Regions from separate parts of the Homo sapiens genome. Here all the other regions are reported to be linked to region 4. The links are microRNA targets in miRTarBase. Many come from high-throughput screens and were not tested one by one. Region 4 holds a microRNA gene; each other region holds the end of a gene's coding sequence.
What was found. Region 4 holds the annotated microRNA hsa-miR-641 (AAAGACAUAGGAUAGAGUCACCUC, at 1,847-1,870, opposite strand). A microRNA usually pairs through its seed, bases 2 to 8, with sites in the 3' UTR of a target mRNA and lowers its output. Matches are read on the target gene's strand: a 7mer-m8 pairs with bases 2 to 8, a 7mer-A1 pairs with bases 2 to 7 and ends in A, and an 8mer does both.

Region 1 (3,056 bases), not on the chromosome of region 4:
GATGGGTCTGGTTCTAGATTGAGTCATGTTGGTCTTCATTTTCTTAGCACAGGTGCAGCAGTGAACAGCAGTGAGAGTCTCCCTCCATCCTCGTCTGTCAATGACATCTCCTCCATGTCCACCGACCAGACCCTGGCATCTGACACTGACAGCAGCCTGGAAGCCTCGGCAGGACCCCTGGGTTGTTGCAGGTGACTAGCCGCCTGCCTGCGAAACCCAGCGTTCTTCAGGAGATGATGTGATGGAACACACACACACGCAGACACACACACACACACAAATGCAGACACACAACATCAAGAAAACAGCAAGGGAGAGAATCCAAGCCTAAAATTAAATAAATCTTTCAGCCTGCTTCTTCCCCAGGGTTCTGTATTGCAGCTAAGCTCAAATGTATATTTAACTTCTAGTTGCTCTTGCTTTGGTCTTCTTCCAATGATGCTTACTACAGAAAGCAAATCAGACACAATTAGAGAAGCCTTTTCCATAAAGTGTAATTTTAATGGCTGCAAAACCGGCAACCTGTAACTGCCCTTTTAAATGGCATGACAAGGTGTGCAGTGGCCCCATCCAGCATGTGTGTGTCTCTATCTTGCATCTACCTGCTCCTTGGCCTAGTCAGATGGATGTAGATACAGATCCGCATGTGTCTGTATTCATACAGCACTACTTACTTAGAGATGCTACTGTCAGTGTCCTCAGGGCTCTACCAAGACATAATGCACTGGGGTACCACATGGTCCATTTCATGTGATCTATTACTCTGACATAAACCCATCTGTAATATATTGCCAGTATATAAGCTGTTTAGTTTGTTAATTGATTAAACTGTATGTCTTATAAGAAAACATGTAAAGGGGGAATATATGGGGGGAGTGAGCTCTCTCAGACCCTTGAAGATGTAGCTTCCAAATTTGAATGGATTAAATGGCACCTGTATACCAATTTGTAGAAAGAACATATGTGATACTTATGTAAAGTGTGGGGCGAGTGGGTAACAGTTTTCAGGCACAAAATGGTTTGGCCTTCTGAAGGCAGGTGTGAATAAAAGCTGAGAGTCTTTTCTGTGACAGTAAAGAGTAGGAGAGACTGGAGGGTAGTGTGTGGTGTGGACTAAGACTGAAAGGAGGTTATTACCCAGATACTAGGAGACACTGGTGTCCCTGTTTTAGAGATTTGGCTCTATACCCATTTGTCATTTCTCAATTACTGGTCACAACAAGAGGCCACTGGAGAAAGTGGCAGGTGGTGAAGCAAGGTTATTGTGTGTGCTTTTGATGATAAGAATCTCTCTCTGGAACTGAGCAGAATTGCCTCCATGTGAATTCCTTCAACAAAAAAATGAGCCTGCCTAGACTACTTTCAGATTGTGGATTGTGTTTTCCATGTGTGGGCTGCTTCCCTGATTCATACTCTGCCAAAGTTTTATTTTGAGAAATAATATTACTTTCCTCTTCTGAAATAAAATAATAATAATAATAATGAAACCCCCAAACCACAGTGTGAGTCTCAGGTTAGCATTTGAAAACATCTCCAGAGACATTGTTATTCCTCAGGAGTTTCCCTGACTCCTTAATGTGGCTGATGTTTCATGTTTATTTATTTATTTTAATAAGTATGAGCAATCGAAGGGCTGATCATCTGAGTTTTGTACTGCAGTAGATGTAAGAGCAATAACTCTGCCCATAAATTTACTGCTGCCAAATAGTTTTAGCAATATGAGTTTGTCTTAAAAGCCATGAAGCATTAATGTCAATGTTTAGCAAAATCTCCAGAATTTAGCTTAAATTAAATTAAATGAAAGTGCTTTCCTGAGCACTTAAGGAGGCACTGTGAAACATCTTGGTTATGTACAAGGCAATACCAAGGTGATCTCAGCAATAATCAGGCTTCCCTTCTTATTCACTTCGAAGTATCCATCACAGTTATTTGCACTCTGACCATGTTGGTGCTCACTAGAGTGGTGATATTTCACCTGAAGAAGTGAAAGACAGGAAGTGGATGGTTGATGAGTGTGAACTGATTGGCAAATAGAATATCCCCAAAACAGAGCAAACAAGAATGCCAGTGCTCTGAAAACTGCCTTAAATATAATAATAGGGAACTTTCTTTCTCTCTTCAAGCAATAGAGACCACAGGGAACTGCACCCACCTGCACCATCGCCATGCCAGTGGTGCTGCCATTCTGAGATTATTTCACACAGTCAGATTCAGTACACGCAGTCATTTGTTTAAAATAAATAGAAGAACATTCCTTTGTGCAGCTTGTCCCCTGGAATAAAAATGGCCCATTTTCTCTATTTTGCTACCATTTTTTTTCTGGTTAATATTGCAGATAACCTGATTGTTAAAAATGCCTCCTCAGTCACTTGAGCTCCCTCTCTTTCATATTCCTGTTTTTTTTTTTTTTTTTTAAAAACTTCTCCTCTCTGTATCTCTAATTCTTTACTGATTTTCTTTCTCGGTACTTTTCTCTTGATATATCTGTGGCTTCTCCCCTCCCTTACTTTATACCACATGGGATTAAGTGCGGAGAGCAGGAAGCTGCTTTAAAGAGAGTCTCAAGGGGAATTTCATCAGCCGCAAGATGACATCACAAGACAGAAGGAAGTCTCCAGCCAGCATCTTCAAAGTGCTTGACAGGCTATCTCTCGTACCTGCATAAGTGGTGAATTTCCCCCTCAGAGTAAACCAGGCAAGAACTAGACAGGGCCCCTCCCCCGCTGTTAGTACCTTCCCAAAGCTCAATTAGTCTTACATCTTCTGTGCATGGCTCTTGGGAGCTGGTTAGCTTTAGCCAGATTTCCCTTATGGACAAGAGAAAAATGGAACAAATTCCTTGAATATAAGTATCATTTACAAATAGAGGTAAGGATTTGGCCCCCAGAATTTTTGCAGGATCAGTTTTATTAGGTGATTAAAGCAAGGCAGATGATGGAACAACAAAGAGAATCACCACTGTAAAAGCCCCCCAGTCCTTTGCCCACTAGGTCTGCTTTCCTATAATATGTCTAGGAGGTGATGATATTATCAAATTCACAGAATATAATATGTTC
Region 2 (3,000 bases), not on the chromosome of region 4:
GGGGCCTGTGTGTTGCAGAAAACCCGCTACGAGACCTACGTGCAGCTGCTGGTGGCCCGCCTGCACTGCCCCTCTGATGCTCTGGACCTGTGGGAGGAGCAGCTGGGGAGGGAAGCTGGAGGCACTCGGGAGCCCAAGCTCAGCCTGAAGAAGTCCCACTCGAGCCCGTCCCTGCACCAGGATGAGGCTCCCACCACGGCCAAGGTGAAGCGCAACATCTCAGAGCGCAGAACCTACCGGAAGATCATCCCTAAGCGGAACCGCAATCAGCTGTGAAGCCAGCACCACCTCAGAGACACTGTTCCCTGCTCCAGGGTAGACCTGAGATGAACCTCCCTGGAGGAGACTTATTTCAATGAGTCCACCATGACGGATGAGGCACCTCCTTTCCCTGCTGAAGGACAAACCTTGTTTCCCTGTGGCCCTCATTCTTGTGCTCCCTGAAGCTTTCCTAATATTGCTGTGCTCCCCACCACCCCCATGGCAGTCCCTCCGCAGCCCCAGTCCCTGGCCACGCCCAAGGGAAGAGGGAGGTGAGGACTTGACTTTCCTCCCAGAGCTCAGCCCATGTCACCCTCCAGGCCCCAGAATCCAGAGTGGCCTCATTTCCTAGACTTGCTGAGAACTCAGCACTTGTTTGAGAACCAGTGCTTATGTGGTGTGCCCTTGGCTTCTGGGGGAGAGCTTGGGGCAGCAGAGGCCCCTGGGCAGCCCAGCCAGGGGAGCCACAGCCCCAAGGATGGTCTTGCTCTGGGAATTAGGTGACCTTCCTGGGGAGGCCCCAGGAGAGTGAATCAGGGACTCTTGAGAAATTCCTAACCAGCCTCCTGTGACCCAGGGAGCAGGGTCGCTAAGGTCCTGCCCACTGAGGGGACAGCCTTCTGGGCAGGGACCTCGGGGGGCTTCAAGGGCTCTGCACGGCTGTGGGGCCCTGTGCCTTTGTCTCCTTGTGTCTCCTTTCCCCCGAAGTAGATGAAACAGTCTCACATACCCAACTGCTCATCAACAGAGCAGAGCTGATGGCATGAGTGAGGGCTGGGCGGGGTGGGGCCTCCAGAGCTTTGCAGGGAACCCTGGAACCCTAGGAACAAGGAGCCTTTGTTCCAACAGAGCAGAGAAGGAGGTTCTCTATGTTCAGACCACTGGAGAGGATAGAGAGGTAAAAGGTGGCGACAGTTTCCCTTAGGGGTCTGCCTGGCAGGAGCCACAGCTCAGGAGAGTTGTGAGGGATGGGACGGAGGCTGGCGACCAGGCGAGGCCTAGGCCAGGCTCGGGAGACTTTTCTGTGCTCCTTTCTACACATGCCTTAAACCTTCCTTCCTGTGGGGTGCCTGGACCCCTTCCCCATCTCTGGCAGCTCAGAGGGTCTCTGCTGCTCTCCCCTGGGAAATCCCCTCATCCTGCCCTCTGGCTGCCTCCCAGCTGGGCTTGTTCTCTGAGGGAGGTTCCGGAGACTCATGGACTTGGGGCTCTGCCTGTAGGAAGGAGGCTGGGCCGGAGGGACCAGCCACCATTGTCTCTGTTCAGCCAAGTGTGCAAGTAGGCTGCCCGCCAAGAGGGGGCCTCTGCTACCCGCTGCTGCCTGCCGGCTGACACACTGCCTCCCCAGCCTTCCTGCTAGGCCACCCTCCTCCCTTCCCATGCTTGTAACCAGCTCTGGGGCTTGCACCTCCACAAAGTAAGGTTGGCCCTTGGAGGCCATGTTTGGGTCTCCGGCCAGGGCCTAGGGCTAGGCCATGCACCCAATGGGTGCACAATAAATAACAGGTCAACAAAGAGGGAGGTGTGTCAGTGTGTGAGGAAGGGAGGTCAGGCAGCTAGGACCACCTGCAGTGTGGCAGGCTTCATCCCTCTTTGCTCCAAGTGTGTATGTGTGTCTGTGCATGTGTGTAGTGTCTGTGTCTGTGTGTTCATGCATATGCAGGAGTCACACGGTCATAGGCCATCAAAGCTGGAGGAGACCTCAGAATCATTCATTCACCTACTTGCTCATTTATTCATTCATTCATTTTGCAGATAATATGGGACGCTTTCTATGTGCCAGTACCAGGGGATTCACAAATGAATTAAACATGTCCCTGACTCCATGAGTTGACAATCTTGCCCACTGGTTTCCTGCTCTCAGTTTACAGAGGCACTTTTATCTTGCTGGGGAAGTGTGCTGAAAAGACACATTCCCAGCCCACACCCAGGGATGCTGATTCAGTCAGCCTGGGTCAGAGGGATAGATAAATATGTTTAAAGCTCCTTGGGTAATTCTGATGTGTAAGTAGCAGTTAGCTGCAGTAGAGTCCAATTGCCTCATTTGATTGAAGTGGAATCCCAGCATCAAGTGGACATGACTTTTGGCCCAAGACTGATGCTTACAAACTAAGTGGAGTAGGTTATTTGACCTCACTGAACATGCATCCTTTTTTTTTTTTTTTTTTTTTTTTTTTTTTGGAGACGGAGTTTCGCTCTTGTAACCCAGGCTGGAGTGCAATGGTGTGATCTTGGCTGACTGCAACCTCCACTGAATCAAGCGATTCTCCTGCCTCAGCCTCCCAAGTAGCTAGGATTACAGGCGTGTGCCACCACGCCCGGCTATTTTTTGTATTTTTAGTAGAGATGGGGTTTCGTCATGTTGGCTAGGCTGGTCTCGAACTCCTGACCTCAGGTAGTCTGCCTGCCTCGGCCCCCCAAAGTGCTGGGATTACAGGCGTGAACCACCACACCTGGCCTATGCATCCTTATTTCTAAAACCATGATAAAAGGTGAAAGTCTGAATGCATGTGTGTGTGACACTTTGATGCTCCTTTGCTCATGTAGAACCGGCACCTCTCTTTCACCTGAGCACGTGGAATCTTCAGAGCCAGATGATGGTGGCTGCCTGGCCTGCCATAGTCAATGCTGCCCAGGCACCTCTGCCTGGAGGGTCTGGGTTGTGGGCTGCAGTTATGACATGTGACCACTTGGAGGCAGGCTTGCATCTTTCTAGCTTCTGGCTGCTCAGGTGTCCTG
Region 3 (3,056 bases), not on the chromosome of region 4:
TCCTGTATCAGCCCCTCCCTAGCCTTTGCTTCCAACCTCCTGGTCTGGCCCGGGAATGACTGTGTGCATCTTGATGTTTAGGTTTGTCCACCCCCGTTTTGGGCCCATCAAATGCATCCGCACCCTGAGAGCAGTGGAGGCCGATGAAGAGCTCACCGTTGCCTATGGCTATGACCACAGCCCCCCCGGGAAGAGTGGGCCTGAAGCCCCTGAGTGGTACCAGGTGGAGCTGAAGGCCTTCCAGGCCACCCAGCAAAAGTGAAAGGCCTGGCTTTGGGGTTCAGAGACCTGGAATAGAAACTTGGATCTATGCACTACGTTTATCTGACAATGGGACAACCAGGGACTGCTCATGCTGTGACGTCACATCCTCTCACCATGCGTTAGCAACGACTTTCTCGCATACTAACTAGGTTTGACTGTATTACTCATACCAGATTTAAAATTAGCTAGCCTTGCAACAACGTCCTACTGAGAGGTATTGTCGAGCATTTGACATAAGACAGCGTGATGTTCTTTGGTGGTTCAAGTCTAAATCTGTACCACATTCGGAGATGCCAAATGATTAGACTGAAACAGGGAAACGGGGTTTTTCAGTCATTTTTAGTCAGTGGTTTTTCCATAGTGCTTTTTTCCTATGGCCAGTGCAAATTGTGTTAGCACACTTGCATATGTGCCGTATTAAGGGTTGACAATTACTACATCTTTATTCTCTAAATGTAGTATAATTTGCCTTTTAACCTTTGATCTGTATCTTGCAATAGAATGGCTTTGGTTTTTTTCTTAGTAAATAGGAGCCCACTTCTAAAGTCATTTCACCCCTCAGCCCTATTCTCTTTCTTAGATACCCTTTACAAGAGAAAACTTCCAAATGGATTTTTGCATCAATAGCAGTGTGTAGGTCTCTCTGGTTCTTTCTATATCATCATTTTATTATTATGTCCTAATATAAAGTACTGGCTCATAGGGCCAGGGTATTATTATAGAATATTATTCTCGCATGTAAACAAAGATATCTTTGCTTTAAGATGTGAGAAGAAATGAATTTACTTTGTTTGCATTAAGTTATGGAAGAGTTGTAATATATACTTTAAGAAAGAAGAGAAGAAAACTAGTATCTCTAAGCGGTAACTATGGCAATTTTGCAATATTTTCAGTAGTGCTAGTAATTTTTTCCTCCTTGAGTACACATTAAATGTACATAACATAGCGCGGTCAGGCTTGTGGCACAGTGCATTGAATTCAAAAGTCAAACAGCAAATTTGAATTCTAACAGAATTCAAAAAAAAATTTTTTTAGTCAGTACTACTAAGGCAGACACACTGATTACTAGGTACAAATCAAACCTTGATGCTAAAACTCTTCATCATTGTAATTTCAAAGCACTTACCTGCTTCAAAACATTGTAAACTAAGACTGAACACCTGTATAGTTTAAAAGCAACACTATCAATAGCATTTCAGCCATTTTGCCAGCCATGTGTAATCACAACTGCAGAAATAAGGAGAAAACCCCTGTTTTTTTAGTTTAGCTAATTAGATCTGTAACATCACTGGGATTGCTCTGAATGAATCCTGAGAGTTTTGTTTTTTATAAGCACCCTCACCACATGCCATAGCTTTGTCTCTTTTAGACACCTCGATGCAGCGGCTGGAAGGACTGGAGAGCAGCTGTTGTGCTGATCTGTAGCTGTCAGCTGTGATTCCTGTCACCTGAGTCAGTTTGGTCTGGAAAGCGAAGGCCTTCCAAGCTGTAGCAGATAGTGAGCTCCAGCTGATGAGAGAAGGCTTCAGTGGAAGAAGAGTGAGGACATAGGCAGAAGGAAGTTTGCTATTTCTTGTCAGTTGCACATTGCTTTATGAAGACTACAACAAAAGTGCTTAATCCCAGGCTGCTCATGACTTTCATTTCAGGTGGCCCTTGGGCACATTGACAGAGTTGCCCTTCCCTTCTTTGCAACACCAGGCTTCCTAGAGCACCCGGTTGCATGCTTTGCAGCTAGGTGGCAGTGGTTTCAGGGAGATCCAGTTGGATCCCTGCTTGAAAGCTTAAGCCAATGGTTCACCCATGAGAGGAAGTTGTCAGTGCTTCCAGGAAGATTGCCCACCAAAGGAACTGAATAGTTTTTAGATTTAAAGGCACCAGGATAGGGTCACTCTTACTCTGTAGAAAGAGACCGTTCTATACACTGTGACGGATGGGCCAGGGCCTCTGGACTTGCATTCTGATAGGTGCTTTAATTTAAATGTGCCCAAAGGGAGTGACTGTCTTCAGGAGAAAGATGGCTTGCATTAACCTCGATCAAGTGGGTTGTGCAGCCAGGTCAGGGAATACGGTCAGGGAGAGGATAGTGCTGGTCATGCCCCCGATGCAGCTATGCTCTGAATGATTTCATTCCTGAGAGTGATAGCATTCTGGTCCTGGCTGCAGTGGGGTACAATTTACGTCCTAAGTGGGGGCTACTCTAATTATCCCATTCAAATGGAATTTTTTTCAACATTGGATAGAAGGAATTGAAGAGTTGTAAGTAGTGATTAGTCTGCTAATCAGTTCTTCAGATGAGATATTGAATGGTAACACTCTGAGCTTAAAACTCAGCAGTGTGTCTGTGACCTCCACGCAAATCAGAGGAAGCAATGCATCCACGCTGAGCCTCACCATGTCTTCCTCCCAACTCTCTTCATACTCTCTGTGTCTTCCAGCTCTTCTTTCTCTGGCCGGCTCTCTTTCCTCTTCTCTCTGCATATGTGAGAACGCCTGGGCATCCTGGGTAACAGCAGCCCCAGCTGCCCTCTCCTGTTCCCTGTTCCAAGTCCCCTGCACTGACCTTTCTTGAGTCTCTCTGGCTCTGTGCATGTCTTTGGGACTCTGCTCATCTGGCTTTTCCTCTGTGTGTGCCTCTCTGTTTGCTTATGTCTCTGGCTCTGTCTTCCCCACCCCTCCCCTCACACACACACATACTCCCAAATGTAAGGCTCTGTGGCAGGTTGGAATCGGAGTAAGGCTTGAGATTCACTGAGTTCTGTAGGTAGGGAAAGAAGTCAAGGGAGTGGAGG
Region 4 (3,056 bases):
CTCCCATCCCACATGACTGCCTCACCTTGCCAAACTGGGATCAGCTCAGAGGCCCTCCCCACAGCCGCATGCATCTAAAGAAGTGCCCAGTCTGTCACCTGATTTGAATTCGCTGCCTAGCTCCTCCCCCTCTAACCGGCTCCTTGCTTATTAACCTGTTTCGGGTTGGTCTTGCTTAGCCCCACAAGGATAGGGACTTTGGCAAGTACACTGCTGTATTCCCAGTACTGATGCAACGCTGGCACATACGAGGTGTTCAGTAAATGGTGGCGGATGAGTGAAACCTTTTCCTCGGCTCCACAATACCCTTAGGATCCATCCTCACCTCTCACCCAGGCCCACAGGCCAGTGCAGCACAGCCCCTGCCAACCCCTGCAGGCACTTCTGCTGCTCCCCCTGCCCAGGCCCAGCCTTCCTGCCACTCCCAGAGCTGTGAGCTGTGGTGGGCTGGGAACCAGGGGCAGTGGCATGCACCTACGGTCCCAGCTACTCAGGAGACTGAGGCAGGAGGATCACTTGAGCCCAGGAGTTCAAGACTAGCCTGAGCAACATAGCGAGACTCCCGTTTCCACAAAAAATTTAAAAATTAGCTAGGCATGGTGGCATGCACCTGTAGTCCCAGCTACTCAAGAGGATGAGGTGGAAGGATCACTAAAGCCTAGGAGGTCAAGCCTGCAGTGAGCTGTGATCACACCACTGCACTCCAGCCTGGGTGACAGAGGGAGGCCCTGTCTCAAAAGAAAAAAAAAAACAAGCACAGAGCCTGACCTCTGAAAAGACTCCAGTGTGTCTACCTTGGAGGCGCTCAGGGCTGCAAAGCCACTGCGTGGAAGAGGAGTGGGCCCGGGAGCTGCCCTTGTCAGTTCTGACTTGATTGCATGTCTCCCCCGACCTCTGTTTCTGCATCTGTAAAACTGAGATGCTAATTTCAGCCCTGATCTCCTCCTAGTGCTCTCTGACACGGTTCTGTGAACTGGCAAAGGCCTTCAAAGTCCCGGCAGAAATACTAAGAATTACAATTGCTAAGACAGACCAACAGCTCACCATGTGTCGGGCACTGTTCTTAGTGAGGAGACATTTCCGGTAGGCTTATTGTATGCCAGAACAGTTATGAATGCTTCCCACAAATTAATCCACTCAGCCTTCACAATAATCCTATCAGGTGGGAATTATCATCATCCCCATGGCACCGATGATGAAATGAGCTCACAAGGGTTGGGGAGCCTGCTCAAGGTCACACAGCCATGGAGTGGCACGGCTGGATTTGAACCCTGTGCTCTCACTCGCTTCCATACACCTCTTTACAGAGGCTGGAAACCAGAACATTGAAGTTCTGGATCCTAGCTGGGCCAGGCTGGGGAGCTGGATCCCGGAATGCTCGAGGGGACCAAAAGTAGGGGGTGGGGGAGGCTGGATGCCTCCGTTCCATAACATAATCATGACTGCCAACCAAGACTTACACAGTACCAGGCACCATTCTAGGAGCTTCTCGTGGATTAATTCATTTAATCCTCACAACAGCCCAAGGTGGACGTCCTTCTGAGACCACTGTATGGGAGTGAACAGTGTGGTCCAAGGTCGCAGAGCTAGAACCGACTTCACCGTCCTGCTGCTAGCTAACGCAGGTCCCTGGTAGCTGTGTCACCCCCTGCATGGCTCTCTTGCTGTCTTCTTCTCCCAGCACACACCTGCCCAGGGTTAAAGGATGCCTTGCCTCCACTCTGAGGAGGGACCAAGAAATGCTGGACTGGCTGTAGGCAGAGATGCTCAGGGCAGCCTGAGGCTCAGGGGTAAGAGGAAGGAAAGACATAGGACAGTCACCTCTATAGGTAGAGGACAGAGGACAGAGGTGACTCTATCCTATGTCTTTCCTTCCTTTCACCCAGCCTGGAACCTGGTGAGCAAGGAATGCATGGCACTAGGGGCTCAGTGACCTGGGTTCAAATCCTACCCTGGCACCCATAGGGTCTGATAAGATGCGGTGGAAGGCAATTCTTCCTCTGAACTTCAATTTCGGACTCTGCAAAAAAGGACACAAATACCATATAAAGCCCAAAGCACAGGGCTGGGCAGAGTATATGCTCACAGACAAAAGCCACTCCTCCAGTTTCTCCTTGACAAGACGATCTGAGGCCAAGGTTGGCCAAGGGCTCACATCACACCTCTCCCACTTCAGCTATGAGACCTCTGGGAAATCTTTGCACTTCACAGTGAGTGAAATGATTCCTCATCTGTAAAATGGTATCACACTTCTAACTAGCTCGTAGCTCTCCATAAAATAGGCCTAACCACAGGTATGTTTTGAGACTTAAGTGAGATCACATGTACAAAAGCCCTGTCACACGCCTGGCATGGGGTGAATGCTATAAACACTGGGCATCCACTAGCTCTGGAAATGATCTGCCTCTCTGAGATGCTGTTTTCTCATCTAAAAGGGAGAGCATAACAACAGCGCCTACCGCTCTAGAATTCAAGTATTCAGCAAGTTTATCTATATGAAGCATTCCAAACAGTGTGTGGCCCACAGAATGCACTCAGTTACTGTCAGCCATCAATTTCATGATTACTGTTTTCACTGCCACTGTTAGCCCCATCAGGCAAACCCTCTAAAAGCTGGCAGGAGAGGACCAGAGGAACAAACCCCTAGTGGAGAAAGATTCTACAGAGTCGCCGCTGCCTCACAGACTGTGGGACCTTTCTCTCCAGGAACCACGAGCCACGGAAGCCAGTCAGCTTGGAAGTCACTGCTGCGGACTAGGGGCAACCATCTGCCCCCTCTGACCACATCACCAGCCCAGGTCTGCTGGGTCAATCAGGGACTGCAGCCAGTCCTCTGGGAACTCCAGACCCAGAGCAAAGGCTACAGGGCAAGCCAAGGTCATGATCTGGCCTAGGGAGCAGGGACACTGGCCACAGACCTCTGGGGCTGGCTGCTCCCAGCACCAGCCCACAGACCACAATAAGACACCAGATCCATGGGGGATCTGACTGTCCCAAGCCCTTCAGAGCAGCCTTCCTCCCTGGGCCAGGCTGGGCCAGGGGCACCCCCACTCCAA

Region 1: the mRNA of MAPK10 is a reported target of hsa-miR-641. Seed matches in the 3' UTR shown: 8mer at 833-840 and 7mer-A1 at 1,726-1,732.
Region 2: miRTarBase lists PSD4 as a target of hsa-miR-641. The part of its 3' UTR that is shown has no 7-base or 8-base seed match.
Region 3: miRTarBase lists SETD7 as a target of hsa-miR-641. Seed matches in the 3' UTR shown: 7mer-m8 at 2,660-2,666 and 7mer-m8 at 2,855-2,861.

The regions. Positions count from the first base shown.
Region 1 is chr4:86,014,367-86,017,422 of GRCh38, reverse strand. It overlaps MAPK10 (mitogen-activated protein kinase 10), which reads left to right. Exons shown (of 14, transcript NM_138982.4): 14 at 53-3,056. The coding sequence ends at 195. Among named protein-coding and RNA genes, the nearest start is that of MAPK10-AS1, 100 kb to the left of the region's middle.
Region 2 is chr2:113,201,140-113,204,139 of GRCh38, forward strand. PSD4 (pleckstrin and Sec7 domain containing 4) reads left to right here. Exons shown (of 17, transcript NM_012455.3): 17 at 19-3,000. The coding sequence ends at 276. Among named protein-coding and RNA genes, the nearest start is that of PSD4, 29 kb to the left of the region's middle. RefSeq lists an enhancer at 2,746-2,795.
Region 3 is chr4:139,508,869-139,511,924 of GRCh38, reverse strand. SETD7 (SET domain containing 7, histone lysine methyltransferase) reads left to right here. Exons shown (of 8, transcript NM_030648.4): 8 at 82-3,056. The coding sequence ends at 262. Among named protein-coding and RNA genes, the nearest start is that of SETD7, 46 kb to the left of the region's middle.
Region 4 is chr19:40,280,757-40,283,812 of GRCh38, forward strand. It overlaps MIR641 (microRNA 641), which reads right to left and starts at 1,885; the gene lies at 1,787-1,885. All of the region lies in intron 1 of AKT2 (AKT serine/threonine kinase 2), which reads right to left.